2 linked regions of the Homo sapiens genome follow. The protein of the gene in region 2 interacts with the protein of the main gene of each other region in a pairwise test. Each region holds a gene or a part of one and is shown on either strand. Other genes may lie near its edges. The genes, in order: TFCP2 and DPH1.

Region 1 (16,352 bases), on a different chromosome or scaffold from region 2:
GAGTTTTATTTTGATTCGATTAGTTGTGTTTTGTTTCGGTGCTTTTTTTTTTTTGGATACCAGATGATTAATGGGCTATTTGATCAGGAAGTATGCCTCATCCATTTGTGTATTCCTACCACATCAAAAAGTGCTAAATAGGCCAGATGCCGCAGCTCATACCTGTAATCCCAGCACTTTGGGAGGCCAAGAAGGGTGGATCACTTGAGGTCAGGAGTTCGAGACCAGCCTGGCCAATATGGTGAAACCCTGTCTCTACTAAAAATACATAAATTAGCTGGGTGTGATGGTAGGTGCCTATAATCCCAGCTAATCAGGAGGCTAAGGCAGGAGAATCACTTGAACCTGGGAGACGGAGGGTGCAGTGAGCCGAGATCATGCAACTGCACTCCAGCCTGGGTGACAGAGTGAGATTCCATCTCAAAGAAAAAGAAAAAAAAAGCTAAATAAAAGTGTATTGTGTAAATGAAATAAATTATAGTGATATCAAGGGGAAAATTTCAGACTACCTGCAAATGCCCCCTTGATAAAACTCTACGAAATATACATTTTAAAAAGCGTTGTATGAAATAAGCATTTTTAAATTAAATTGAATTTAAACTAAAAAGTGTTTGTTTTTAAGTATTTCACAGCACAGCTGCAGCTAGTGAGAAAGTCTTAAGGGTTCTATGAAATTCATTTCATCAGAAAAATGCAGTAAGATCTCTCATACACATATACACACACAACTCTCCCATGGATACCAGGAGGCCCTAGAATGCAAAGGAAAATTTCATGCTAGGGAAAACAAAAGAAAAAGAAAATTTAACCTGAGAAGTTTGTGAAAAGCCTTGTGAATGTAGAAAAACGATTTCGATGCAACCACTGCTGAGCTTCCTGAGGTGTGGTTGTTGGTAAGAGGTTCTGAAAGGGAGAGCACGTTTTTTAGATAACCAAATAGATTTGTCTGTTACCCCATTAGGTAACACATAGCCAAACACCCCACACAACCCCATACTCAGGCCTAGTTTGTGAAAGTTGTTTTCTCTTTCTCCAACCATGCAAGATGCTCAAGGAGTTCCATCCTTTTCTTCCCCACTAGACTATAAGCTGCTCAAATGGAAAGGTCCTGCATTACTTGTTTCATATCTTTAGTCCCTAGCACAGTATCTGGTTCATAGTCAAAATTCAATAAATGTTTGTTTAATGAATGAATGAATAATACTCCCTAAAAGTTGGGCATTTCTACTGAATTGGACAGTCATCAAAGTATTACCAGACATTGCAAGTAACTGACATTCAACTTTAGACTTACATCTGTGACTGGAGGGGGTGGCTCTGGCTGGTGGTTTGGTGAACCATTTCTAAAGAAACATTTAAAATGAAAGGATGAGTCCATGACACATGCTGGGGCTCATTATTTCATTCCTCAGCTTCACAATAAATCTCATGCTAGAGATTAAAAAAAAATCTGTGCTCTCTCATAACACATTCTTATTCTTTGACCCAATACTTTAATTTTCTATTAGTTTAACCTAAAGACTTTATGAGGAGGGGGAGAAACTATGTCATTAGCAATATTTTCTTATTATTGAGGAAACTGAAGAAAATATCAACATTTCAATAAATTGGGACTGATGAGATAAATTATGGCATAAAAATATTTAACCATAAATTTACTAAGATGAAAAATTATGAAAGAATAATTATCAAGAAAAAAATTTAAAAATAAAATGAAAAATATCAGGATAAAAAATTTTATCAATACATTACTACTGTAGGAAATACATAAATATGCACACATATACAAGAAAAATATTGGAAGAAAATTTATGCAATGCAATATCATCACACAGATTTAAAATAAAAAACAATTTTTTTTTTTTTTTTGAGACGGAGTCTCGCTCTCTTGCCCAGGCCGGAGTGCAGCGGCATGATCTCGGCTCACTGCAACCTCTGCCTCCCGGGTTCATGCCATTCTCCTGCCTCAGCCTACCGAGTAGCTGGGACTACAGGCGCCTGCCACTACACCCGGCTAATTTTTTTATATTTTTAGTAGAGACAGGGTTTCACTGTGTTAGCCAGGATGGTCTCGATCTCCTGACCTTGTGATCCGCCCGCCTCCGCCTCCCAAAGTGCTGGGATTACAGGCGTGAGCCACCGCGCCCGGCAAAAAAAATTATTTTTAAAGTAGCCCCAAAAATTAGTGCTGCCTAATTTATGATCCAAGGGTTATCTCCACACTCCAGTTTTTCTTTTTCTTTTTTTTTTTGAGACGGAGTTTCACTCGTTTGCCCAGGCTGGAGCGCAGTGGCATGATGTCAGCTCACTGCAACCTCTGCCCTCTGGTTTCAAGCGATTCTCCTGCCTCAGCCTCCCAAGTAGCTGGGATTACAGGCGCCCGCCGCCACACCTGGCTAATTTTTTTATTTTTAGTAGAGACGGGGTTTCACCATGTTGGCCAGGCTGGTCTCGAACTCCTGACATCGTAATCTGCCCACCTTGGCTTCCCAAAGTGCTGGGATTGCAGGTGTGAGCCACCGCGCCCAGCCTGTTTTTCTTTATACGTTCTTTGTCTATGAATTGTCCCTCTTCCCTAATGCCTACTTTTATGGAAGAAAAAGTTTAACTAGTATGAAGTACACGACAAAGAGAAGAGAAAAATTTTTAAACACAGCTCTTAAACCCTATATCATATTTGGAATTACCTATAAGTAGAATGTATCATCTATGTGGATGTTAAGATTTTTTTTTCTTTTAAAAAAAGATCTTTTTCCTTTTTTAGCCTTAGCTGCAAAATTCAAATTTGGTATTCGAACTTAGTAATTAACTTATCTTAGGGCCCTACTTATATGTATTCCCTCTACAACTAATACCTACTTTTATTCTTAATTGTTACGTTTTAAATATTTAAGCTACCTTAATTAAATCCTTTAAAAAGTAGGTCAGACATAGAGCCTAAATAAATCCAAAACCACAAACATTGCAACCAAACAATATACTCGCACATTTGGTAGCCTAACTATTTCAAGTTTCAATATGGCTATGTGAAATACATGTTAAATGCTTGGACTATAATACAGCTACTTTTTAAAATTGGAGTAGGCATCTGTACCAACTTTCAATTATCTCTTATGGTAAAAGATAATAAGGCAAGATTAAATGTATCCCATAAATAATTCCAAAACTTCATTTTAGCCATCATCTTCAAACTTATTTCCCCAATTATCAAAGATTCATAATAATTAGGTGTTAGAAGTATTCCTAACAAGTAACAAAACAAATTTTAGTGTTTGTACAATTGTTTCCAGTTCCCAAAGACCACTGTCTGGTGCAAGTATGATCAGGAAATGAAATAACCACAAGATGTGCAGTAATAGGGAGAGGCAAAAAGCCCAGATCATCAGTCCCTGAACCACTAAAAATTGACCATAAATGCTACTTTCTAGTGGGGGGAAAAAAGACGAGGAGGAGGGAGAGGGGAGAACACAAAGAGAAGAAAGGGCTATATAAAACTCTTTCGATCTCTTTTGAAGCTACTCCAAATCTCAGTTAATATATAAATCCATCAAAGAACGACCAAATAGATATACTTATTGATTTAAAAAAGATCTTGTTTATGAACAGGTAATGAAAGAATATATATTTTGGACAAATATAAGCCAATTTTATTTCCCAGACTTACCCTTCCCCAAGAGAAAAACTGCTATGGGAACTGTTGAAGCCAGGTGATGGGGAGTTATTGACATACGTGATCTCGGGCCATGGAGAACACTAAAAACAAAGGATAAGTTAGATAATGAACGAGCACATATGACCCCAGGATTTGACTAAAACATTGTTACTTGAATAGCACATCTTGATTAGTAAATCTTAATTCCTCAGAGACTCCCATAAGCAATAGAGAACACTGCTTCTCTTTCCGCCATCTTGGAGCCTGTGGGGAGGCCTGCTGAGAATAGGACTTCTAAAAAGAAATAAGTCTAGAAAACTACGGTCCCAGGCCATTTTTGTTGGTTATAAGTGGGTTCCAGAACCAAAGGCAGCACACAGCTCTTCCTAAAATTGAAGGTGGTTTATGCCCAAGATGAAACTGAATTCTATTTGGGCAAGAGATGTGCTTATGTATACAAAGCAAAGAACACCACAATAGCTCCTGCAGCAAACCAAACCAAACCAGAGTAATTTGGGGAAAGATAACTTGGACACAGAGACAGTGGCATGGTTCGTGCCAAATTCTAAAGCAATCTTCCTGTTAAGGCCGCTGGACACAGAATCCATGTGATACTGTGTCCCTCAAGGCTTAGGAGAAGTAAATTCTGACCAGTTTGGAAGTGATGAATTTTTAAGATTAAAAATTATGAACTGAAATTGTCACCAAAAGAAATCTTTTTACCTCTGTGAGTATGGTTGTCTCATAGGAAGGCTGATATTTCTCCTTTTCATGAGGTGTTCGTTTCTCCATTTTTTCCCTATCCGTTTTTTGCTTTCTGTCTGCACCTTTGGGCTGAAATGAGAAATATTTTGTTTTAAATTCAGGTACTCACCTTTTAACCCAAAATATTGCTTCCAAAAACTTAAATATTCATGTATGAAACAAAATTGTATGTGCAGTGATGTAAAGGCAAGACACATCACTTTAAGTTTGAAAATAGGAAATTTAAATGTTTATATTCGATGGAGTTGAAAAGAATCAGATCTATAGCTACTGACATGGAAAGATCTCTAAAGCACATAGTTCACTGAAAAAAATCAAGTCTCAAAACATTTCTTTCTTTTTTTTTTGAGACGGAGTCTCATCCTGTCACACAAGCTGGAATGCGGTGGCGAGATCTTGGCTCACTGCAACCTCCGCCTCCAGGGTTCAAATTATTCTCCTGCCTCAGCCTCCCCAGTAGCTGGGACTACAGGCGTCCGCCACCACACCCAGCTAATTTTTTATCTTTAGTAGAGACGGGGTTTCACCATTTTGGTCAGGCTGGTCTTAAACTCCTGACCTTGTGATCCGCCCACCTCGGCCTCCCAAAGTGCTGGGATTACAGGCATGAGCCACCGTGCCTAGCCTCAAAACATTTCAAATAGTATAATCCCATTTATGTGTCAAAGAAAATATGTATATAGCTATGTATGTGTGTGTATAAAAGCATAGGAAGGAACTAGAAGAGCTGGGCGCAGTGGCTCATGCCTGTAATCCCAGCACTTTGGGAGGCCGAGGCAGGCGGATTGCCTGAGGTCAGGAGTTCGAGACCAGCCTGGCCAACATGGCGAAACCCTGTCTCTACTAAAAATACAAAAAATTAGCTGGGCATGGTGGTGTGTGCCTGTAGTCCTAGGTGCTGGGGAGGCTGAGGCGTGAGAACAGCTTGAACCCAGGAGACGGAGGTTGCAGTGAGCTGGCACTGCACCACTGCATTCCAGCCTGGGTGACAGAGTGAAACTCCGACTCAAAAAAAAAAAAGAAGAGGGAAGTAGAAGAACACATACGAAATTATGAAATTATGACAGTGGTTTCCTCTGGGAAGAGGTTGTGGAGGGGGTCAGTGTAAGAGTAGTAAAGGGAGAATTTCAGTGTTGCTATGAATACCTCTGTATTATTCAATCTCTTACAATGAGAACATATTTATTCATGTGATAAAAATAAACAGGACCCTGGCTGGGGCACAGTGGCTTACACCTGTAATCCCAGTACTTTGGGAGGCCAAGGAGGGCAGATAACTTAAGCCCGGGAGTTCAAGGCCAGCCTGGGCAACATGGCAAGACCCCCTCTCTATAAAAAATACAAAAATTAGCCCGGTGTGGTGGCACATGCCTGTAGTCCCACTTACTGGGGAAGCTGAGGCAGGAAGATCAATTGAGCCCAGGAGGTTAAACTATGATTGCGTCACTGCACTCCAGCCTGGGTGACAAAATGAAACCCAGTCTCAAAAATAAATAAATAAATAAATAAGACCAAATAAGAAAAGATCAAGTATGAAAATAACCATAACTAGTCAATTTTTGTGAGCTTTACAAGAGCTTGTAACTTCAATAGGCTTTAAGAGCTTTCAATGAGAATCCATGTTCTTGCCTCTAGCCCTCTTTTCCAAGTTCCTATTATCCTACGACCATGTAAATTTCTTTACCAGGCATCTTGGTAATTATTTCAATGACTCTAGCTTAGACTTTTTGCGTGTGTGTGAGTTTTCAAAAAAAGACAAGTTGATTTTCTGACTTGGTAACTAATGTTAAAATAGAATGATAAGGTAAAAGAATCCAAGGGCCAGCACATTGCCCAGGAATACCTTGAAAACTTTGATCTGGCAGCTGGCCGAGTGTAAGTGCTCAGTATATTCCCCGTTTTCATTCTCCTTGAAGGTATCTATTTGTACTCGGAATGGCACCCCCTTTTCTCCACCATGTTTCCTCATAGTGAACTCTGTGCTAATACAGTGCACCTGAAAAGAATACAACAGCAAGGCTTCAGTACCGCTAGCTAGCCAAACCAGTTGGCAGTATTTTTTTAGCAACTATTAACAGCAAAACCTTTACCAGGCATTATGAATACCTACAAAAAACACTTTTCCTCTTTTTGATCTTGAAGAACTTACAATCTGATAGAGGAAATAGAAAAATGCTTTACAAATGCAAACAAAATAAAAGTACAGATCTAATGCTAACAAAAGCTACTGTGAGGAACTAAATTCATTAACTGCTTCAAAGAACACAGAGCTAGCAAAAGAGAAATGATTTATGTTAGTTAAAGTTTCCTCAATTTTAAGGAAGATTGTAGAAAGAGGAGTCACTACCCAGTCTGGGAACATAGTAAATATGAAAGTTCACAGCAATAGTGGAGAAAAAGGTTTGCTTGGCTACTGCATAAAGTCTAAGATTGGTGAATTTTTTTTTTTTTTTTTTTTGAGACTAAGTTTTGCTCTTGTCACCCAGGCTGGAATGCAATGGCACAATCTCGGCTCACCGCAACCTCCACCTCCCCGGTTCAAGCAATTCTCCTGCCTCAGCCTCCCAAATAGCTGGGATTACAGGCACACACCACCACGCCCTGCTAATTTTTGCATTTTTAGTAGAGACAGGTTTTCGCCATGTTGGCCAGGCTGGTCTCGAACTCCTGACCTCAGGTGATCTGCCTGCCTCGGCCTCCCAAAGTGCTGGGATTACAGGTGTGAGCCACGGCACCCAGCCTGGTGAATCTTAATAGAAGAACCTTGTCTGACTGACTACTCCACAAGATTATAGCTGAAAGTCTTAAAATCATATATATAAAGTGTTTACTTAACATAGTGACTATTTCATGTGAAGTATTAATAAACTAGTGGTTACTATAATTACTACAAATAAGGATTTTCAAGGACTCTACCCAAAGAACATAATCAGATACGCAAATCAAATTTTAAGTATAAATATGTTCAAAATAACATCACAGATAATAGTAAAAAATCAGGCCAATCAAGGCCGGGCATGGTGGCTCACACCTATAATCCCAGCACTTTGGGAGGCCAAGGTGGGTGGGTCACCTGAGGTCAGGAGTTCAAGACCAGCCTGGCTAGCATGGCGAAATCCCACCTCTACCAAAAATACAAAAATTAGCCAGGCATGGTGACATGCGCCTCTAGTCCCAGCTACTGGTGAGGCTGAGGCAAGAGAATCGCTTGAACTGGGAGGCAGAGGTTGTAGTGAGCCGAGATTGCACCACTCCACTCCAGATTGGGAGACAAAGCCTAGACACTGTCCCCCCCCAAAAAAATTATGCCAATCTAACTGCCAAATAATTGTTATGTAAATTATGGTACAACCAAGAAATGAAATATTATGCAGCCATTACCAAGCAATTTTGGGAGACACAAATAAATAAACTGGGGTATTAGAAGAGCAATTCAGAAACTCCTCAATGCTCTCAGGCACAGGTTAAAGAGCCTGGGCTTGACAGTCAGGCTAGAACCCTGTAAAGATTTCAAAGTTAACATGTTTTATCCTTTAAGAAATAAACTGATAGTAAGAGAGATACTCTTCAAAACTGGAACCCTATCTGCAACGCCTTACCTGAATAAACACAGATGTCCTCTTTGCAGGGTCCCACAGGAACTCCACTGTATTTAGTTGAGTTGGATTAGCCCTAGGATCGATTATACCCACAGACATCGGGATATCTGAGAAACAAAATGGTAATCATTGAACAATTTTGAGGGCCACTCAGTTTTAAATAAGAAAGCATTGATTCTTATATTACTCAATGTAGCTACCAAGATTTTTGTATATCACATCCTAAATTTCTTTGTTTTTTTTTTTTGTCGTTGTTGTTGTTTTTTATGGAGTCTTGTTCTGTTGCCCAAGCTGGAGTGCAGTGGTAACAGGCCTGGAGTGCAGTGGCACCATCTCAGCTCACTGCAACCTCTGCCTCCTGGGTTCAAACGATCCTCCTGCCTCTGCCTCCTGAGTAGCTGGGATTACAGGCCCGTGCCACCACGCCCGGCTAATTTTTTTGTATCTTTAGTAGAGATGGGGTTTCACCATGTTGGCCATGCTGCTCTCAAACTCCTGACCTCAGGTTATCCACCCACCTTGGCCTCCTAAAGTGCTGGGATTACAGGCTTGAGCCACTGTGCCCAGCCCACACCTTAAATTTCTTTTTTGTCAATGAAAATATTTGATTAGAGTAAAATTGACTTAAGTACTTTGCTTGAGCACCTTTTTTCCTCTTTAAAAAGTTTTTAAAATACGGCAATTAAAAAAATTATTTGGCCAGGCACGGTGGCTCACACCTGTAATCCCAGCACTTTGGGAGCCCAAGGCAGGCGGATCATGATGTCAGGAGTTCGAGACCAGCCTGACCAACATGACGTAACCTCATCTCTACTAAAAATACAAAAATTAGCCGGCCGTGGTGGCCCACACCTGTAATCCCAGCTACTCAGGAGGCTGAAGCAGGAGAATTGCTTGAACCTGGGAGGTGGAGGTTGCAGTGAGCCGGAGATCGAGCCACTGCACTCCAGCCTGGGTGACAAAGCAAGACTTCATCTCAAAAAAAAAAATTATTTTTAGGCCAGGCGTGGTGGCTTACACCTGTTATCCCAGCACTTTGGGAGGCCAAGGTGAGCGGATCACCTGAAGTCAAGAGTTCAAGACCAGCCTGGCCAACATGGCGAAACCCCGTCTCTACTAAAAAATACAAAAATTAGCCAGGCATGGTAGTGGGCATCTGTAATCCCAGCTACCTGAGAGGCTGAGGCAGAGAGAACTGCTTGAACCAGGGAGGCGGAGGTTGCAGTGAGCCAGTATTGCGCCACTGTGCTCCAGCCTGGGTGACAGAGCAAGACTGTCTCGAAAAACAAAAAAATCATTTTTAAATTGAGAAATAATAATTGTACATATTCATGGGCTATATAGTGATGTTTCAATACATATAATGCATAGTGATCAGATCAGGGTAATCAGCATATTCATTGTCTCAAACATCTGTCATTTCTTTGTGTTGGGAATGTTTAGTATCCTCCTTCTAGCTTAAAATATGGCAATTTAAAGGCAGTTTCCTTTTAATTTGTTAAAATCCTATTTAAGGTGGATTAAGTCTACACTATCATGAAAACTGTAATTTATAATCTATTTCAACTACAGTTTGAAAATTAGTTTCATTGCCAAAAGCACATTAAGAGTATTGCTATTGAAGGGGTGCAGCAGAGTGTCTATATGAAGGTAGAAAGCATTATATCATGAATGAAAGTGGGAAAATTTTAACATAAAGATTGATGCAGGCCAAGCGTGGTGGCTCACGCCTGCAATCCCAGTACTTTGGGAGGCCAAGGCGGGTGGATCATTTGAGGTCAGGAGTTCGAGACCAGCCTGGCCAACATGGTGAAAACTTGTCTCTACTACAAATATAAAAATTAGCTGGGCGTGGTTGTGGATGCCTATAATCCCAGCTACTCAGGAGTCTGAGGCATGAGAATGGCTTGAACCCGGGAGACAGAGGTTGCAGTGAGCCGAGATCATGCCATTGTACTCCAGCCTGGATGACAGAGCAAGACTCTGTCTCAAAAAAAAAAAAAAAAAGATGGTTGATGCTGACTTACCAAGTCATCAAATAATCCTATAACAGAGTGACAAATCTTTACTTAAAAGGGAAGCAAGAATTAATGGGTTTGAGTAGAACTTTTCTTTCCATTCCACACAGCAGATATTCAAATAGCATTCCCTGATTTCTCCTATTAATGATCAAACTGGGGAGTTAAGGCCAGGTAATATGTATTATCAGAACTGTGGTATTAACTATACTACTGTTTTGGTATCAATGATTCAAACAATAGAGCATCAAGTGGGTCCCACTCCACAATATTAGTTGTGTTAGATTCATCTTAAGGTCAACTTATCATACAGATATCAGGATCACTGCATGAGAACCAATGTTTTCTCAGGTAAAATTAGTAGCAGTTAAATTTTTCTTAACAACTATGTTTACCAAAAGGAAATTTTAACCAATTAGAAATCAGAGAGGCAGACACCATGAAAAGTGACTGCATGTGTATTTGTGAAGATCTTTCCTTTATACCCTATGACTTAGGAAAAACAAATTCTACTCTGTGTAGCAACGTGGGAAGACACAACTTAACTGCAAACCAAGTGACATAGCTTCTAATACCAGAACTCCCACTTTATAGTGCCTGGTTCTCAGGCACTAGTAAAATGAAGGAACTTTCAGCATGCTGGGGAAAAAAGTCTGCCCCTCTTTACAAACGCAAAACAAAATATCAGATCCTGAGCAGCCAAAACAATCGTGAAATAGAACAAAGTTGGAGTTCTCATGCTTCACGACTTCCAAACTGACTATAAAGCTACACTTAGCAAAATAGTGAGGTATAGGCATAAAGACAGACATTTAAACAAATGGAATAGAATAGACAGCCTACAAATAAGTATTCAAATATATGGTCAAATGAGTTTTGACAAGGGTGCAAGACCATTCAGTGGGGGAAAGAACAGTCTTTTCAACAAACGGTGTGGAGAAAACTGGGTATCCACATGCAAAAGAATGAAGTTGGGCCCTTCTTTCTGTATATGGTTTACCATACAACCTTTTTTGTATATGGTTGTACCATATACAAACACGAACTCAAAATGGACCTGTGACCTGAATATAAGACCTAAAACTATAAAACTCTTAGGAGAAAACATATGGGAAAAGCTTCTTGGCACTGAATTTGGCAATGATTTCTTGGATGTGGCACCAAAAGCACAGGGAATTAAAAAAAATTAGATAAATTGGACCACCTCAATGTAAAACTTTAGTGCATCAAAGGATAGTATCAACACAGTAAAAAAGCAACCCACACAATAACAGAAAAGATTTGCATGTGATATATCTGCTATGGGGTTAATATCCAGAATATTTTAAAAATTCTTTCAACTCAATAACAAAAAAAACAAAACAATCCAATTCGATAGTGGGCAAAAGACTTGAACAGACATTTCTCCAAAGAAAATATATAAATGATGGGCCGGGAGCCTTGGCTCACACCTGTAATCCCAGCGCTTTGGGAGGCCAAGGCGGGTGGATCACCTGAGGTCAGGAGTTCAAGACCAGCCTGGCCAACATGGCAAAACCCTGTCTCTACTAAAACACAAAAATTAGCTGGGTGTGGTGGCGGGCACCTGTAATCCCAGCTACTCAGGAGGCTGAGGCAGGAAAATCGCTTGAACCCGGGAGGTGGAAGTTGTAGTAAGCCAAGATCATGCCACTGCACTCCAGCCTGGGCGACAGAGGGAGACTCCATCTCAAAAATAAATAAATAAATAAATAAAAATAAAGAAAGAAAGAAAATATATAAATGGCCAATAAGCACATGCAAAGATGCTTGACATCACTTATCACCAGGGAAATGCAAATCAAAACCACAATGAGATACTACTTCACAACCATCAGGATGGATATTATCAAAAAATAGAAAGCAACAGGCCAGGTGTGGTGGCTCACGCTTGTAATCCCAGCACTTTGGGAGGCCGAGGCGGGCAGATCAAGAGGTCAAGAGATTGAGACTACCCTGGCCAACATGGTGAAACCCCGTCTCTACCAAAAATACAAAAATTAGCTAGGTGTGGTGGTGCATGCCTGTAATCCCAGCTACTTGGAGGCTGAGGCAGGAGAATCACTTGAACCTGGGAGGGAGAGGTTGTGGTGAGTTGATATCGCGCCATTGCACTCCAGCCTGGGCAACAAGAGCGAAACTCCATCTCAGGAAAAAAAAAAAAAGGAAAGCAACAAGTGTTGACAAGGATTGGAGAAATTGGAACCTTTTTTTTTTTTTTTTTTTTGAGAGAGTCTCGCTCTGTCACCCAGGCTGGAGTGCAGTGGCGTGGTCTTGGCTCACTGCAAGCTCCGCCTCCCGGGTTCACACCATTCTCCTGCCTCAGCCTCCTGGGTAGCTGGGACTACAGGCGCCCGCCACCACGCCCAGCTAATTTCTTTGTATTTTGAGTGGAGACGGGGTTTCACCATGTTAGCCAGGATGGTCTCGATTTCCTGACCTCATGTTCTGCCCACCTTGGCCTCCCAAAGTTTTGGGATTACAGGCGTGAGCCATCGCGCCCGGCCGAAATTGGAACCTTTGAGTACCGCTGGTAGAAATGTAAAATGTGTAGTCACTGTGGAAAACAATATAGTGGTTTCTAAAAAAAATCTAAGATAGAGTTACCATATGACCCAGCAATTCCATTTCTGGATATGTATCCAAAAGAATTAAAAGCAGAGACTCAAACACATATTTGTACATCCATGTTCATAGCAGCATTATTCACAATAGCCAGGAAATGGAATCAAATTAAGTGCCTATCATGGGATGAATGGATAAACAAAGTGTGATATATACACACAATGGAGTATTATTCAGCCTTGCATGGGAAGGAAATGCTAATGTATGCTATACCATGAACCTTGAAAACATTATGCTAAGTGAAAAATGCCAGTCACAAAAGGACAAATACTGTATGATTTCATTTATGCAGTACTTAGTAGTCCAATTCATAGAGACAGAAAGGAGAATAGTGGTTACCAGGGGCTGTGAAGAAGGGAGAATGGGGAGTTGTTGTTTAACAGGTACAGACTTCTGGTTTTGCAGATGAGAAAAGTTCTGGAGATGGATGATAGTGATGGTTACACAATAATGTGAATGTACCTAATGTTACTGAACTATCCACTTAAAAATGGTTAAAATGATAACTTTTATGTAATGTATATTTTACCACAACTTAAAAAACAACAAAATCAACCTATAGTTGCTATGGAACTAAAGTGTTTACACTTCCAACTTCAATTTTGATATCATTTTAACTTGTATTACTTAAAATTTTTTATGCTTAGTAAATAATTTCAAGGTTTATACTAATTGAGCCTCTCAAGCATATGAATCAAGGTAAATGTCAAATAAAGAAAACCAACTCTGGGTCCATAGCTAAAGGCATTTCCTAGGCAATAGATTCTCTTAACTCACCTATGTCAAGAATTCTGTCTCCAGGTCGGTTCCACCTCCAGCCCTCTAGCTGCTGATGCTCAGTGTACTGAAGCCTTCTGTCATGGAACACCACACGGAATATACTCTAAAAGGATACAACAAAATCAGATGATAACAAGACCTCTTGAAAATCAGTGCTGACAAAGAAAAACTAGCAGGATTCACTGCCAGTTTGTTTCTAAACGCAATCTAAAATTATTTTTCTTAAGATCTGTTTCACTCTAAAACCCATACCATACTAAGTGCTATTTCAGGATAAAATTTTATAATTTCTCAGATATAATCTTTTTTTTTTTTTTTGAAACAGATTTTGCTCTTGTTGCCCAGGTTGGAGTGCAATGGTGTGATCTCGGCTCACCGCAACCTCCACCTCCCGGGTTCAAGGAATTCTCCTGCCTCAGCCTCCTGAGTAGCTGGGATTACAGGCATGTGCTACCACGCCTGACTAATTTTGTATTTTTTGTAGAGACAGGGTTTCTCCATGTTGGTCAGGCTGGTCTCAAACTCCCAACCTCAGGCGACCCGCCCGCCTCAGCCTCTCAAAGTGCTGGGACTATAGGCGTGAGCCACCGGGTCCAGCCAATTTCTCAGATAGAATCTTTATAGTTAACTGGTACCATATTTAAAACTTGGCTTAAACTTCAGTCCGATGGTAACTAGGAATAAAGTACTCCTGTCTGAAGCGTTTCTGCACACCTCTTCTGTTATACCACGGCCTATCTGGCTTAGCTCTTCAGATGTATATGAAAAACTCACCAACTCCCCCGCTTGCTAACCCACCATACAACCTGTAAACACTGAGGGTAGGTAGAGCCTGTTTCCATCAACTTTCCTTTTGTTACTCTTACTTTGTAGAAGTGCCTATTAATTCCTCCCACCACCTTTTGACAAAACTCCTCTGTTTCAACTGTGCTGTGAATTATCAAAATCCTAACTGTTAATCTAGACTAAGAGAACTGCTCTTCATCAAAGTAGCTTCTGTTTTCCTTGCTATAAGACTAAGTATCAAAAAAGACACTGAGGCTTCTCTAAAGATCTCAAGGAGGTTACTTTACTCCACCCAAAAGAACTTCACTGAGCCAGGGGTGATTACCCTGGACAGGGAGTGGTAAGCGTTCTATTTCTGCAGCTCTGAAAAATTCATGTGAATACTGGGGCTTACTCTGACCCCAAAGAAATAACACATCAGCTTACTACTCTGCCAACAAATTACTGCAGGCAAGAGATACCATTAAGCCATTGGAAGCAAAAGAACATTAACAACAACAACAAAATTTAAAATCCCAAAAGGATTAGTAAAAAATATTGTACAGAAGAATGATTTATTCGTTTTACCTTCACCAATTTGCCATTAATTTCTGGAAGTTCTCCAAGTTTCCTATTGTCTAGCATTCGAATTTCATAAGACTGTCCTAGAAGAAAAAGTAATTACATATTATATTCACCACAAATTAACTTTGCTAGATTCGGAAAGAATAAAATTCAGTTGGTTGAATATACAACAGTATAATAATATTATTAGTATTAGTAACAACAATCAGAAGCCTTTACAAGATGCTCAGCACTGTGCTAAGTATTGTCACATTATCTCATTTAACTGATATACTTTTCTAAGGTATTATCAATCCCATTTTACAGACAAAGAAATTGAAACTTAAAAGAGTTTTAGCAACTTGTCCAAGGCCACACAATTGGTAAATAATAGAGCCAGGTAGAGTAATACTTCTCAGACAGTAACCAATGGGAGTGTCTAGGGAATATGATTAGGAAGAGGAAGCTGGACACTAAAAATGGACAGCTAAGCAAAAGAAGCTAGTAATAGATATCAAGTATGACATTAGAACTCAAATCTCTGAAGTAGGACTTCTAGTTTGATAGGCCACACTAGAAAGATCTAAGTTTTTACATATAAGTGTACCTAATAAAACATCATAAATGGCCGGGCACGGTGGCTCACGCCTGTAATCCCAGCACTTTGGGAGGCCAAGGCAGGCGGATCATGAGGTCAGGAGATCGAGACCATCCTGGCTAACACGATGAAACCCTATCTCTACTAAAAATACAAAAAAATTAGCCGGGTGTGGTGGCGGGTGCCTGTGGTCCCAGCTACTCAGGAGGCTGAGGCAGGAGAATGGTGTGAACCCGGGAGGCAGAGCTTGCAGTGAGCCAAGATGGCGCCACTACACTCCAGCCTGGGTGACGCCGTCTCAAAACAAACAAACAAACAAAAAAATCATAAATACAGTAGGTCTGCAATAGTACTAATGAATGAGGAAGCATCTAACCTTGATTGAGATACGTTAGGGTTTCATCATGGAGTTTCACTGCTGGAGAGGTAGCAGCACAAAGCACATATTGAAAAGGCAGGATTTTATTCTCATTATCAGGAGGCAAACTCGACTCTTCTTGCTTAAAAATGGGCAATGCAAGGACATCACTAAAATAAAACAAATGACTCACATTAATACCTGGCAATGGTGCAAACGCAGGTTTATTGCTGAATGATTTAACTGCAATGCTTTGGAAAGCCATAAACATTACTCACCTTGGTGGAGTTTCATCCCAAGAATTCCATTTAGATTACCTGCTGTGATATCCCCCTGACCACAACAGTGTGGGTGATGACAGATATTCACTGCTAAAACCACTAAGTGTTAAAGAGAATGTTTCTAGGAATCATAGACAGGGGTTCCTAAAAGGACTGTGGAAATTATAAACAGAGTTCTAAAATGTATAAATCTAGGACATTCAGTAACGTCTTCATTCTCAGAAAGGCAACAACTATACTATCTATATAACCATATCAGCTGATTTACTATAAGGACTAAAATAACTTCTACAATTCCTTAGAAGCCACGTGAAAAGGACAAATCAATA
Region 2 (13,889 bases):
TCTGCACTCCAGCCTGGGCGACAGAACAAGACTCTGTCTCAAAAAAAAAAAAAAGTCCAGAGGACTGAGTTCACAGCTGGCTGTGCTGTGCCTCTGTGTAAACTGGGACAAGCCTTCACTTCACCTCTTGGAGCCTTGGTTTTCTCACGTGTGAAATAAGGAGTTTGAATTGGATGACTCTACGGTCCCTCTATTTACATAATGCAGAATCTAAGAACCGTCCCACCCCAAGCTTCTGAGGAAGAGTGAAGGAGCAGCCGGCCGTGGTGAGGCCACCTGGGGTTCTAGAGATCCTCATTTGGAAGTTGGGGAACAGATTCTCCTTCACAAGCTCAATACAGATGTGGACAGTAGTGTTCAAGGAGTCATCTACGCCAGCAGTAACCAATATTTTTGGCACTGGGAACAGGTTTTGTGGAAGACACGGGTGGGATTGGGGGATGGTTTCAGGATGAAACTGTCTCACCTCAGATCATCAGGCATTAGGATCTCATAAAGATCATGCAACCTAGATCCCTCGCATGTACAGGTCACGATAGGGTTTGAGCTCCTACAAGAATCTAATGCCGCGGCGGATCTGACAGGAGGCGGAGCTCAGGTGGTCACGCTGGCTGGCCCACCCCTCACCTTCTACTGTGCGGCAGGTTTCCTAACAGGACATGGGACCAGGGGTTGGGGACCTCTGATCTATGCTGTACATGAGGTTGCAGGGCATACAATGGCTACTTTCTGCCCAAACTAGCTCTTGGGGCCAGTTACTGAGTTATAACAAAAGCTACCGGATTTTCATTTTGTTTTTTTGAGGCAGGGTCTTACTCTGTCACCCAGGTTGAGTGACTCGGTCATGGCTCGCTGCAGCCTCAACCTCCCAGGCTCAAGCGATCCTCTCACCTAAGCCTCCTGAGGAGCTGGGACTACAGGCATGGACACTGTACCCAGCTAATTCTTTTTTTTTTTTTTTTTTTTTTTTTTGGAGAGAACAGGGTTTCATTATATTCCCCAAGCTGGTCTCAAACTCCTGGACATATGCAATTCTCCTGCCTTGGCCTCCCAAAGTGTTGAGATTACAGGCGTGAGCCACTGTGCCCGGCCAACAGCTACTGTTTATTGGACTTGTGCCTTCTGTGTACCAGGCATAGACTAAGTACCTGCTGTGAATTAGTTCACGCAGTCCTATCTCCTAATCCTCCCAGATACGTATAGTATACCTGTTTTACAGAAGGTAACAACTGAGGCTCAGGGATGTTAAGAAACTCGCCTAGTATTAAACAGCTAGGAAGCAGTGTGTCTGAGGCTCAACCCAGGCTGTACCAAGTGTGCCCCCAGACATGCTGTCCCTGACAGTAGCTTCCCAGCCCATGAAGATTACAGAGCGTGGAAGATAACCTGCCTGTGGCAGCTCCTTCTCTCCCTCTTGGAGACCACACTTCATTCTGATGAATGGCTAACACTCAGGGTGTCCCTCCCTCCAACATACACTTTGAAGACCCCAAGGGTAGAGACTGAGTGACGTGGGCACAGGGGGAATGCCACTCAGTGCTGCTCGGGGAGCAGGGCTGCCAGATCTGGGCTGGGGAAGGCCCTGATGTGGGCCTGTCTAGGGACAGGGGTGTCAGGCCTGTGGAAACAGCCTCCAAAGCCCCAGAGGTGGGACTGAGTCAGGGAGCGACCCTCCCTCCCTGCCATTAGTACGGAACGGGACTCCCTTCCCTAGTCCCAGTCGGGGGAGCCGTCGGCTCTCAGGCTGGCTGCATTCACACAACATTAAGCATTTCCATTACCTAAAATAATTAGGCGGCAGGAGACACGCTGCTTCTGCTTGTTAGCTGTCCGGATGGTAAATTAATGGGGCTGCAGCCTGGGCGTGCCCATCCATCTTCTCCAATTATATTCCCACCATTTCCAGCCCACCCTCAACCCCCATCAGGCCCTCTGATTCCTGCCCCCACCCTGCACAGCCTTCTGGATGATGGACTGGGCAGTGGAGAAAGCGACAGTAAACCTGAGGTCTGCTCCCTGTTTGGTCCCTACCTTGCAGTGTGACCTCGGGCTCACAGGTAAGGAGCATTAGATTTGGTTTCTTTCCTGGATGATGAACCTCAGGCTCCCTCCCAGGGTACACGCATGTCTCTAGGACTTACTTGGCCCCCATTTTTAACTTACACAACGGCCTCCACCTCTTTGGACAGTCGGGGGGATGTGCAGCCCAGGATCTCTCCAGGGGACAGGGGCTTGCACTGTGGGACACTCACACGATACTCGGCTTTCAGCTCCTGGGCGGCTGCCTGTAGGAATGACGAGGGAAGTGAAGCCAGCGGCTGGGGCAGGAGAGCCAGGGCTGAGAAACAGCCTGGAGCACCTGGGGATCCCGCAACAGCTGGAGAGTGGCCGCTGTCCACCCTGCAGGAGGCCGAGGATCCTCGTTCCACCCACCTGCAAGGTCGACACAAACTGAATGGTGCTGACCAGGGCAAGGGCAGTGGCTGGGGGAAAGGTGAGGCGGAGAGAGTCCAGGAGGTGTGTAGTGTCTATCCGGATGTCCACAAAGACGTACAGCACCCGGAAGTCTTGGGCCGAGGTGTCCATGGGAACTGTGGGAGGGAGGAGTTCAGGGGCTGTTTGGGAAGGCAGGAGCAGCAGAGGGCCCGGCCAGGCTCAGGTCTCTGAGCAGCCAGGCGCAGTGGCTTCAGCCTGGGGGTAAAAGGACAGGGTAGGAGAAGAGGGGGGTCACAGATCCCCTAGAAGCTCCTTCTCAATCAGACTTCTCTGTCACCCGGCCGGGGCCCAGCCTGCTCTACAACCAACAGCCTTTCAAACACCTGCATCTGGGACAGAGCACCGTTGCCAAGGCAACCAAATCCAAAGGAAAGATCTACCTGCAGAGCGGGAAGGCAGAGGCCACCCCAGAAACCAGGAGGGACCTTGTGTCTCCAAGCAGGACAAGAAGGCACTGCCATGGGGAAGATGAATGTGCAGCCTGCCTCCCTGCCAGCCCCGCCACCGTCCAGGTGTCCTGGCCCCACCATACTCAGGCAACTGTGGCCGTAGTGCACCAAGAAGTCAGCTCCCAGGGCCCTCGCTGTGAAGTCATCCACACAGCAAGCCCCGTAGGTCACGTCACCCATCACCATCACTTCGGCCTCCGTGAACCTGCGGGCACAGGGGCGGGGAACGGTGGGACAGGGACACAGGGACTGAGGTAGGAGAGACCCAACCCTGGGAGGGTGTCTCAGGGCCCAGCTCCTCTCTCCCTACCTCTCCCAGTTCCTCGGGATGGCAGCTGCCACTTCTGCCAACAAAGATTAGGAGGGGCACAGCTGCCGCCTGCCCCAGCCTGGCAGCCGCTCCTGGAACTGTTGCTGCGTGAGGACCCTCATTCCTCTACCCAGGCTCAGGCTGCAGGAGGGACCCCAACCCTCACTCCGGCACACGTGGGGTCAAAACACAGACGCCCCATGCCCTGACTCACCCACCCAGAGCCGTGAGCACGCACACACACCCAAAGGTCCTCACTCCCGCGCTGAGTGCTGTGGTGGGCATGGGCGTGGCTGTATGAATACACACAGCCTCCCTCTTGCCGGGACCCCCACTCCCTCCCCACCACAGGCAGGGCCCCCACCCCCTCCCCACCACAGGCAGGGCCCCCTCACCCGGACCCCCACTACCTCCCCACCACAGGCAGGGCCCTCTCGTCCGGACCCCCACTACCTCCCCACCGCAGGCAGGGCCCTTGGTGCCCAGGATGGGGGGACCCAGGCACAGCTCCCCCATAGCACATGGCACCACCTACACGCCTCCTGCATCAGGAAGAGGAGGCTCTGGCCAGAACACTGCCGTGGGAACTGCTGCCAGGCCTGAATCACTGGGGGAGGGGGTGGGTGGGGAAGACCTTGTACCCCTGAACTCACCCTAGGAATGGAGGAGAACCCCCTCTTCCTTGAAAGAGACTCACACTTGGGGCGTGGAGCCTGGCTCAGTGACTGGGGTCCCCCCATCCTTCCCCTGGGGGTGTGGCAGTGGAAGAGTTGAGCTCCTGCTAGTCACCCCCTCCTCCACCCCCTTCCCCAAATCAGGCTGTGCCCAGAAGCAGATTATTCACCTCCTTAGAATGCAGCCCAGGCGTCTAAGTCAGCCACAGCACTTAATTTTTTATAGATTAAAATGTATGCAAATTGGCCTGAGCCCCAGAGAGCATCCCCAAGGGGCAAGACGGTGGGAGCAGGGAAGTGAGTCTGTGGCAACAAGATGGGGCAGCAGGGGAGGGAGGGCAGCAGCAGGGGAGGGGGATGGGGCAGCAGCAGGGGAGGGGGATGGGGCAGCAGGGGAGTGGGGGAGGAGGGGAGGGGGCAGCAGGGGAGGGGGGAGCAGGGGAGGGGGAAGGGGGAGTAGGGGAGGGGAATGGGGCAGCAGGGGAGGGGATGGGGAAACTGGGGAGGGGGATGGGGAGCAGGGGAGGGGAGGGGGAGCAGGGGAGGGGGAAGGGGAGGGGAGAGAGGGGGAGCAGGGGAGGGGAAGGGGGGAGAAGAGAGGTTTGGGGGAGCAGGGGAGGGAGGGTGGCAGCAGGGGAGGGGGATGGGGCAGCAGGGGATGGGGGAGCAGGGGAGGGGGATGGGGGAGAAGGGGAGGGGGAGGGAGGAGCAGGGGAGGGCGATGGGGCAGCAGGGGAGTGGGAGGTTCCCAGCATGAGATGACCTCCCCTTTCTTCGTTCCCCTCCCCTGTTCCTGTGCTGGTTCCAGATGGCTGAGCTCTCACCCTCCCCACCAAGGATGGCTCATTGTATTGCAGAAACTTAGAGTGACAGGGGTAGGATGTAGAGGAACTGAATACCTTCTCCCAGGCACCTCCCACTCCAAACCCATCCTTGCCCTACTTCCCCAAATGTGCCCGAGGAACAGGTGCCCCCCACCGCCCCCGACCGGCAGACCTCCCACTGATCACTCAGCGCATTTCAGGGGCAGCTTGGAGAATTCTTAGGGTCCTCCCCAGGTCCTACCACCTGCTCTGGGTCTAGCTTTGAAGACACTGGGATTGATTTCTTTCTCTGTCCCAAATGTTTAGGGGAGGGGGGATTTGCAGGGACAAGCAGGGCTCTCAGCAAGCTGGGAGATTTGTTTTGGGTTTTCCCTGAGTGTGTGTATGGTTGTGGGAGGGAAAGGGGGAAGGTGGAGGTTCAGAAGGAAAAAATGCCCGCCACCAGGGCTTTACCCACCCGGGTAATGAGCATAGGGGGTGGGGGAAGCCTGGCTCACCCTCCTCTCCAGTGCCCCAAGCCTCACCTTTCCAAGATATCCACAATGGTACAGGCAAAGAGGAGGAGGCCTTCCGGCATTTGCAAGGCCACTGCAAGACGAGCAGAGACATGAGAGGTGGAGGGCTAGGAAGGGGCTGCAAGGGGGACACTGTCCCATCTGGGCCAGGCAACCTCTCCACCCCAACCCCAGCTCAATGATCACAGGCTCACCCTTCTTGGCCTGGGCTTGTTGGATCCTCCAGATGGTCTTGGGGATCTCAAAGTTGTAGTTGGAAGGCAGGACCCGGATTGCTGCCTGCAGCTGAGGGTTCTTCAGGATCTCAGGGGGGATCTGATTGGCCACGCGGCCCCGAGGGGCCCGACCTAGAATGGATATAAGGCCTGAGTTGGTGTCTGTCTTTGGCTGAAGCCAGATTGAGATGGAATAGGGATCCCTTTTCAGGGCCTGCCGGTGCCCCCGCTCAAGCATAGAAATAAAAATTTTGAGTCATCTCAAGAAAAATCCCAGGCATCTTAGCTAGCCCTACAACCAGCAATTAGGGAATTAAATAACTTGCTAAACAAGAAGATAATAAACAACAGTCACCCAAGTCAGAGTCACGAGATGCCTGGTTCCCTATAGAAACTACACATAACACCTTGACATATATCCCTAAGTTGTTTTTCAGAAACCAGGACACCCACCCCCCCACCAGGTGAAAAATGCCAACTAATTGCTGTCATGTAAGACCTCAGACAGACTGAAGCCAGAAAATAGGTAAGAAAGTTCCAGAAATTCCCCAGCCCTTAATTCACTTTAAAGATCCCCAGAAGCCCAGCCTTTAAAAACCCTCTGCAGCCGGGCGCAGTGGCTCACGCCTGTAATCCCAGCACTTTGGGAGGCTGAGGCGGGCGGATCACGAGATCAGGAGATCGAGACCATCCTGGCTAACACGGGGAAATACTACTCTCTACTAAAAATACAAAAAATTAGCCGGGCCTGGTGGCAGGCACCTGTAGTCCCAGCTAAGGCAGGAGAATGGGGTGAACCCGGGAGGCGGAGCTTGCAGTGAGCCGAGATCACGCCGCTGCACTCCAGCCTGGGCAACAGAGCGAGACACCATCTCAAAAATAAATAAATAAATAAAATAAAAACCCTTTGCTTGTAAGCCATCAGGAAGTTTAGGTCTTAAGCTTTAGCTGCCCAGTCTCCCTGCTTGGTGCCTTACAATAAATGCTTGTTCTCTCCCTGCAAATCTCCATGTCAGTGTTTGGCTTTTGCTTTGTGTGGATGGGAAGACCCAAGTTGAGTTTGGTAACAAGACCCAGCTAAGCTGTTAACTCCACCAAGTTTAAGGGCCAGATCCAGACACCAAGGGGGTTGGCCCAGCTTTCGTTCTCACTGAATTCATCCTGAAGGTAGAGACAATTCATTAAGCCAGAAGGTAACCGGTATAATTTCCATGTTGTGAAATCACTGGGAATCGAAGACTTGAGCCCATGAATAGAATATGGCTCACCTTCTTCCTCAGGAGAACAGAGGTGACACCAGGGGCTAAGGGGCAAAGAATGAGTCTGAGTCCATATACTGCTCCCTGATAGAGAACAGCCCTGCGGAAAACCTAAGAGTCAGTCTAGCCAGCCCAGCCAGCCTGGGAGAATGTCCCCCCTCTCCCACCTCCTGAGGACACCTTGAAGTTTTGAGCTTCTAGATATGAGGTCTATAAGCAAACCGTTAAACATGAATACTAACTTAAAAGACTGCCCTCCTGACTCAGAACCCCACTGACTGTGGCCACACTGTTCGTTCTTTCACGCTTACCTCTCCTCATTTAAAAGGGAAATAAACATCATACATTTAACTGACTTAGCTGTCCCATTGCTCCTCCTTACTCTTAAACCAGGAAGGATGGAAAGAACACTTGAGTCAGGGTGGTGGACGTACCAGTAAGGACAGAAAAGTGACCTTGTCCCTTAGAGACCAGCAGTCTAGTGGGGGAAAAGACAGGTATACACATAATTACAACTCCTGGAGTAAAGGGGAAACCGTAGCCCTTAGCAAACTGCAACTCTTACTCTGGTCTCATCCTACTCCTAAGTAGGATAAAAAATAATAAGCTGAATAAACAATTCATCTTATTATTTTTTAAGGCAGGGTCTCACTCCATCACCCAGGCTGGAGTGCAGGGGTGCAATCATGGTCCACTGCGGCCTCGACGTCCTGGGCTCAAACGATAATCCTCCCACCTCAGCCTCCCCAGTAGCTAGGACCACAGGCATGTGCCAAGACGCAGGGCTAATTTTTTTTTTTTTTTTTTTTTTTGAGACAGAGTCTCACTCTGTCTGTTGGCCAGGCTGGAGTGCAGTGGTGCAATCTCGGCTCACTGCAACCTCAGCCTCTCGGACTCAAGCAATTCTCCTGCCTCAGCCTCCCGAGTAGCTGGGATTACAGGCGTGTGCTACCACACGCGGCTAATTTTTGTATTTTTAGTAGAGACAGGGTTTCCACCATGTTGGCCAGGCTGGTCTCAAACTCCTGACCTCAGGTAATCCGCCCGCCTCAGCCTCCCAGAGTGCTGGGATTACAGGTGTAAGCCACCGTGCCCGGCCACGCACGGCTATTTTTTATTTTTTTGTGCATACAGGGTCCCCCTATGTTTCCCAGACTGGTGTGGAATTCCTGGGCTCACACAATCCTCCTTAGCCTCCCAAAGTGCTCAGACTAAAGGTGTAAGCCACTATGCCCTGCCCCGACAATTAAGCTTAGTTCAACCCCGTTATCTCTTCAGGAGCCACAGAGTCTGAGGATATGAAAAGGCAAGAAATTAACTTATTCAACGAATATGTATTGAGACTGTGCTATGTGCCACAACTTCTGCTAGGGCCCCACACTATGATAGGAGGGACCCGCCCAGACATGAGGCTTCACCCACTGTGTGGGCGGCGGTGGGGATGGTCCAGCGGAGGCTGGGGCCCTGAGATCAGATTTGAACGTTACCACTGCTATGGTTTTTGGCCAGTTGTTTCAAAAGCCTTGGACAATCAGCCTAGGCTTCCTAGGCCCATTACAGATCCTCCTCTGACAGGTCCCTAGTGGTCGCTGGCGTGTAAGGAACTGCTAACATTAGCCCTTCAATGTGTCCCAGGGACCAGTAGGCACCTCCTCCTTTATCACGTGGCTATGATATGTTTACATTAACATTCCCCCAGTAGACTGAGATCTCTGATTCTAGTACCTGCACCCAGCGCAGGCCTGGCATTCGGTGGGCGCTCAGTTAATGCCTGGCGAATGAAACCTTTTGCCTCTTCCCTGAAAGCATTCCCTGAGGGCGCACTCGTAAAATGCCCGCTGCATCTGGCCTGGCCCTTTCCCTCCCCGTCGAGTCCATTTTATCCGTCTACCCGCCAAGACAAGGCTGTAGTTTCCGATTGGAGGATTAAGGGCTGCTCTCGGTCGTGCCCTAAAGCTGCAAAAGACTGGTACCCCTGGGCTCCGGCTGACAGCGACCCCGAGCTGGTGACAGCGGCCCAAGGCGACTAACAGCGGGATCTAGCGGAGAAAGGCGCCGCCGCCGTTAAAGGGGGTTGGTCCTGTCCCTAACTTGGGGGCCCCGCCCCGAGATGCGAGGTCTGGAGGGCGCAGCGTTCCAGCACCCACCTCTGCCAGGGCCGTCTCGGCCGCCCTGCTCCGCTGCCCCGGATACGACCAGCGCCGCCATCACCTGCCTGCGCATGTGGTACTAAAAAGACAGCGCTGGAAGAACGCGGAGAGCGCAGACATTGCGATCGATCGCCGATCGGCCAGCGGGGGCGGGGGATACCCGCTGGGCGGGGCCATAAAGGAGGAGATAGGGGCGGGGCTGTAGTGGGCTCCACCCCAGCCCAGAATGCCGGGACTCAGGATTCCCTAGAGGTCCCCGACTATGCAGTTGCCCTTGCCCTGCGACTTAGTCTCCCACTCCTCTCCCCGGCCGGGCACGAGCCTGGCACTCCCGGACCGGTGCTCTCCTATGTGCGAACTCCCTGCACGAACTCTGCAGGCCGAGTCTTGTGAAGGGGACACCCACCAGATGTTCCTTGAGCCCCCCCTGCCAGTCTCCCCTCCTGGTAAGCAGTGGTCGGTCACCCGGCCGCCGTGTGGGGCCACGTTCCCTACCTAGGGGGACTCTACTGTCCGGCAGGACAGAACTCAGGGACCACCAGCCCAGCTCCAAGTTGAGAGTCTTGGTGCAGGTTTGTGGATCGCCCTTATCAGCTTTTTAAATTATTTTTTTTGAGACAGGGTCTTGGTCTGTCGCCCAGGCTGGAGTGCAGTGGTGCGATCATGGTTCACAGCAGTCTCAACCTTCTGGGCTCAATTCATCTTCCTGCCTCAGCCCCCTGAGTACCCGGGACCACAGGCGTACGTTCAGCTAATTTTTTTTTTTTTTTTTTTTTTTTTTTTTAGTAGAGATAAGGTTTCACTATTTTGCTCAGGCTGGTCTTGAACCTCTGGACTCAAGCAATCCTCCCACTTTGGCCTCCCAAAGTGCTGGGATTACAGGCGCGAGCCACTGCACCCAGCCTTTATCACCTTTAGAATCCACTGCGTAGACCCTGTAGAAACTGCCCCTCTGGGGAAGGCCCACAGCCTGAGGGTGCTTTCCTGGGAAGGTGGGCAGTGGAGGACTGTGATGTCTAACCCTTCTGGACCCTGGCCAACCTTTGCCCTGCCCCTCAGGGCTGGTCTTTCTCCTGATCACTGGCCAGAGCCCCAGAGACCCCAAAGAGAAGACAGCCAGTGAGACGGCTTTGACCTGTGGAAGAGCAAAGTACCTGCAGGACTGGCCCTCAGCAGTCTGTCCCGTGGAACAATGGTCTTCCAGGTCTGACGGTCTACCCAGCCCCCTGGCATCCTCCTCCTCTCTCTGCGGTGGTGCTGTGATCACAGCTGGCCCTTTAAGTCAGCTCTGTGTCCTCGGGCTCCCCCAGAGGCCCTCCCTGCTTGGAAACCCCTAATTAAGGTGCAGGGAGAAGTAAAAACAAGCAGCCAGAGACAGGCCCTGCCTGGGAGGCTGCCCAGAGAGGAGGAATGGCTGGACAGGCAGGGAGTGAGCAGCTGAGGGACCATCACCAAGGGTCAGTGCTGTGCCCCCCAGGCCACCGGCACTCTTAGGACAGGTAGCTCTAGACAGAAAAGTGACCAATGTGGGTCCCAGGAACACTCCCCTCAACTCGATAAGCGTCCGGACTAGACCTTCCCATCTCCCCCCAGCTTCTCTGGATCCCCAGGGTGCAAGATCTGAATTCTGGGAGCTCAGCCCCTCCTCTCTCAGGACACTGCTGCCCAGCCTGTGGACAGCCTTAGCTGTGACTGCAGCATGGAGTTTCAAGGGGAAAGGACTGGCTCCAACTGAGCAATGGCTTCTCCCTAGCAGGCGCCATATCCCTTGGGACCTTTCCCTCATCAGAGGTGGGGCCTGTTTGATGGCAAAAGTCCCATCCCTCTAGTAACATTGCCCCGCACCCGCTGTGCCTAATGAGCTGCTCTGGCCCCCATTAGGAAGCCGGATGATGCCTAGGAGAACTGGACATGAAGAACAGATGTGAGAATGCTTCCCCAAGACTCCGTGGTGCAGGACATTGGGGGCTGCCATTCAGCTTGGGCTGAGGGCACCTCCATCTGTCTGTGGGGGTCTCCCTGCCTGAGTTACTCAGCAGTCTGAGTAATTACTGCCTGACAAGAAGGCGGGCACAGTGCACCCCCACAGTACACCACAACACCCGCCTTCACTCGCCCCCACTCCCTGGCTGGACTCCAAGGCAGCACCCAACCCTCCTGAGGCCTGAAATAACTCTGCTTCTCACACTCACGCCCAGCCCCAGCCAACTTTTCCTAAGACGCTAGAGTTTGTGGGCTAGGGGGTCATGGGGAGGCGGCTTGGAGAGGTGGAAGGAGGATTATCCCACATTCAGGCCCTGAGTCAGGCCCACACTTTATCGCTGATCTGTGATGTGACGTTGAGCAAGTTGTTCATCCTCTCTGGGCCTCGGTGTACTTACAGAGGACCTCTCAGGCTCCCAGTGTCAGGGCTAAGGCAGGCAGTGGGGTGAGCACTGCCTTGTAGCTGGTGGCTAAGAGAAGGAATACCTCACCTTCTGTTCTACGCCAAGAGGGACCAATCTTTTTTTGTTCGTGTTTAACTGCTCCTGTGGCCATGGGCAGTGTGCCCAGAGTAGCAGCCATCCATCTTTTTTTATCTTTAAACATTTTTTTGAAATAGAGATGGAGTCTCACACTGTTGCCCAGGCTGGTCTCAAACTCCTGGCCTCAAGCAATCCTCCCACCCCAGCCTTCCAAAGTGGTGAGATTATAGGTGTGAGCCCATGGTCCTCAGGAAGGACCAATCTTATCTATCTTCAGAACAAGGTTACTTCTCACCTTCAAGCATCTACGTGGAATGCCCTTCCCCCTTCTTAGTGTGGTGAACTCAGCCTTCAAGACCTAACTCCAAGGGCACCTCTTCTGTGACTGTTTCCTGATTATCTGGTAGCCCCTGGCAGAGCTAGCAGAGCCCTTTCGCAGTCTTTGTGACTTCTGTCAGTCACACTCTAAGATGGTTTGCGGGTCTTTCTTTTCCCACGACACCTGAAGCTTCTGGAAGTCCAAGCCCAGAGCCTTAGCTCAAATCTGAAGCTTCAGTGCCACCAAATGCAGGTGTGAGTGAATACGTCAGACTGGCCTTCTTTTTTTTTGTTTGTTTTGTTTTTTTGAGACAGTCTCGCTCTGTCACCCAGGCAGGAGTGCAGTGGTGTGATCTCGGCTCATTGCAATCTCCATCTCCTGTGTTCAAGAGATTCTCCCGTAGCCTCCCAAGTAGCTGGGATTACAGGCGCACACCACCACGCTCGGCTAATTTTTGTATTTTTAATAGAGACGGGGTTTCACCTTGGCCAGGCTGGTCTCGAACTCCTGACCTCAAGTGATCTGCTCAGCCTCCCAAAGTGCTGGGATTACAGGTGTGAGCCACCGCGCCCAGCCTGGCCCTTTTTTTTTTTTTTTTTTTGAGACAGAGTCTCACTCTGTCACCCAGGCTGGAGTGCAGTGGCGCGATCTCGGCTCACTGCAACCTCCGCCTCCCGGGTTCAAGCGAGTCTCCTGCCTCAGCCTCCCGAGTACCTGGGATTACAGGCGCCTGCCACCATGCCCGGCTAATTTTTGTATTTTTATTAGAGACCGGGTTTCACCATGCGGGCCAGGGTGGTCTCGAACTCCTGACCTCGTGATCTGCCTGCCTCCGCCTCCCAAAGTGCTAGGATTACAGGCGTGAGCCACCGCGCCCGGCCCTGACCTTCTTTTTGACCTTCCTATCATGTCACCTTTTCCTACAAGGAGGGATTCAGTTGGATTTCTGCTTGGATGTCACCTGCTCAGAGCAGCTTTCCTTGACTGCCACCTCTACCCCCGTGTCAGCTCCAGAACAATACTCTGCTTGTTTTTCTTCGAAGCACAATCTTCCCATCTTCTCTGGACTTTCCTCATTTGGCCCCTATTAAAATGGAAACTCCTTGAGGACAGGGCAAAGACAAGTCTTTTTCGTCTGCTGAATTTTCAGGAACAGTAGTGCCCCACACATGCTGAGCCTTCGGTGAATGTGTGTTGAATGACAGCCTTGGTCCATCCGCTTTTTCTTCTCTCCGAATCCCTCTGATCCCAGGCCAGCAGGGGGTGCCGCCTCCACCCAGGATCTCGCCTGGCCCGAACCTTCTCTTCCCTCAGCTCAACAGGCCCCTGCGGGACCCGCTTTCCAAGCGGCGCCTCCTCCATTTTCCGCGAACCCCCCGGCGGGGTCTGTGTGGACCAAGGGAGATCAGAGACCCCCCGCCGCCACCCCACCCAGGCGGAGACGGCCCACCCGAACCCGCACGGGTCCTTCCTTCTCCCTGGAATTTGCAGCTGGCCCTTTCCGAATGCTTGCTCCCCTCCTCTCCCCACGAAAGAACAGTGTCCTGGGACTCGGGGTGCGGGGCAGCCGGGTTCGCTGGAGCTGTTCAGTGCGGGGAAGAGCCGTCGAGACTGGGAGAAGGGGCGCTGGCCAGGGAGGAGACGGGGCAGGGAGCGGACTCGCGATCCGTACTCTGGGCGGCGGTCCTCGCGTCCCAGCCGCGTCTCCCGATGACCTCCAGCCGCGAAGGGCGAGCGGGCGGGGGCTGGGCTGCGGGTTCGGGCTCCAGGAGGCCTGCGGGGCCGGGGAGGGGCGTGGAGTGGTCCGAGGACCGGCTTGGGGACTGGGGGCAGGTGCCTGGACGGACGCGGGCCGAGCATCTTCCCCGGGGGCGGGCGCAGTGAAAACACCTTGGGAGGCGGCGCCGCGCGGCTGAGCGCTGCTGCCTTGGGAATAGGACGGCGCTCGGCACTGCGAGCTGAGAGCACTTTCATAAATTTTGTATGGGAGGCGCTCCGTGAGCGGGGGCGGGGAGCGGAGCGAGAGGGAGGGAGCTAGAGAGCAAGGGAGGGAGGGAGGAGGAGAGGAGGGGGAAGCCGGGGGGAGGAAGGGAGGCGCCCCGCTCCGCCGATCGCTCGGTCCTGCAAACGCGCGCCGGGCGCTTTCCCCGGAGCTCGGCGGTGCGTGCGAGCGCCCTTTTGCTGCAGCCGCGGCGGCGGTGGTCCGAGGGGGC

The links.
Region 1: the proteins of DPH1 (region 2) and TFCP2 interact in binary tests that used the Homo sapiens proteins (3 or more experiments, as listed by UniProt).

The regions. Positions count from the first base shown.
Region 1 is NC_000012.12:51,102,861-51,119,212, forward strand, and holds part of TFCP2 (alpha-globin transcription factor CP2), read right to left. Parts: intron 15,913-16,352; coding exon 15,761-15,912; intron 14,888-15,760; coding exon 14,811-14,887; intron 13,561-14,810; coding exon 13,455-13,560; intron 8,124-13,454; coding exon 8,017-8,123; intron 6,414-8,016; coding exon 6,261-6,413; intron 4,487-6,260; coding exon 4,376-4,486; intron 3,754-4,375; coding exon 3,665-3,753; intron 1,344-3,664; coding exon 1,295-1,343; intron 904-1,294; coding exon 810-903; intron 1-809.
Region 2 is NC_000017.11:2,025,231-2,039,119, reverse strand, and holds the start of DPH1 (2-(3-amino-3-carboxypropyl)histidine synthase subunit 1), read right to left. Parts: upstream 8,968-13,889; 5' UTR 8,966-8,967; coding exon of another isoform or gene 8,951-8,965; coding exon 8,890-8,950; intron 5,616-8,889; coding exon 5,463-5,615; intron 5,342-5,462; coding exon 5,278-5,341; intron 3,151-5,277; coding exon 3,029-3,150; intron 2,592-3,028; coding exon 2,434-2,591; intron 2,286-2,433; coding exon 2,164-2,285; exon of another isoform or gene 1,782-2,163; intron 1-1,781. UniProt on the Homo sapiens protein: Catalyzes the first step of diphthamide biosynthesis, a post-translational modification of histidine which occurs in elongation factor 2.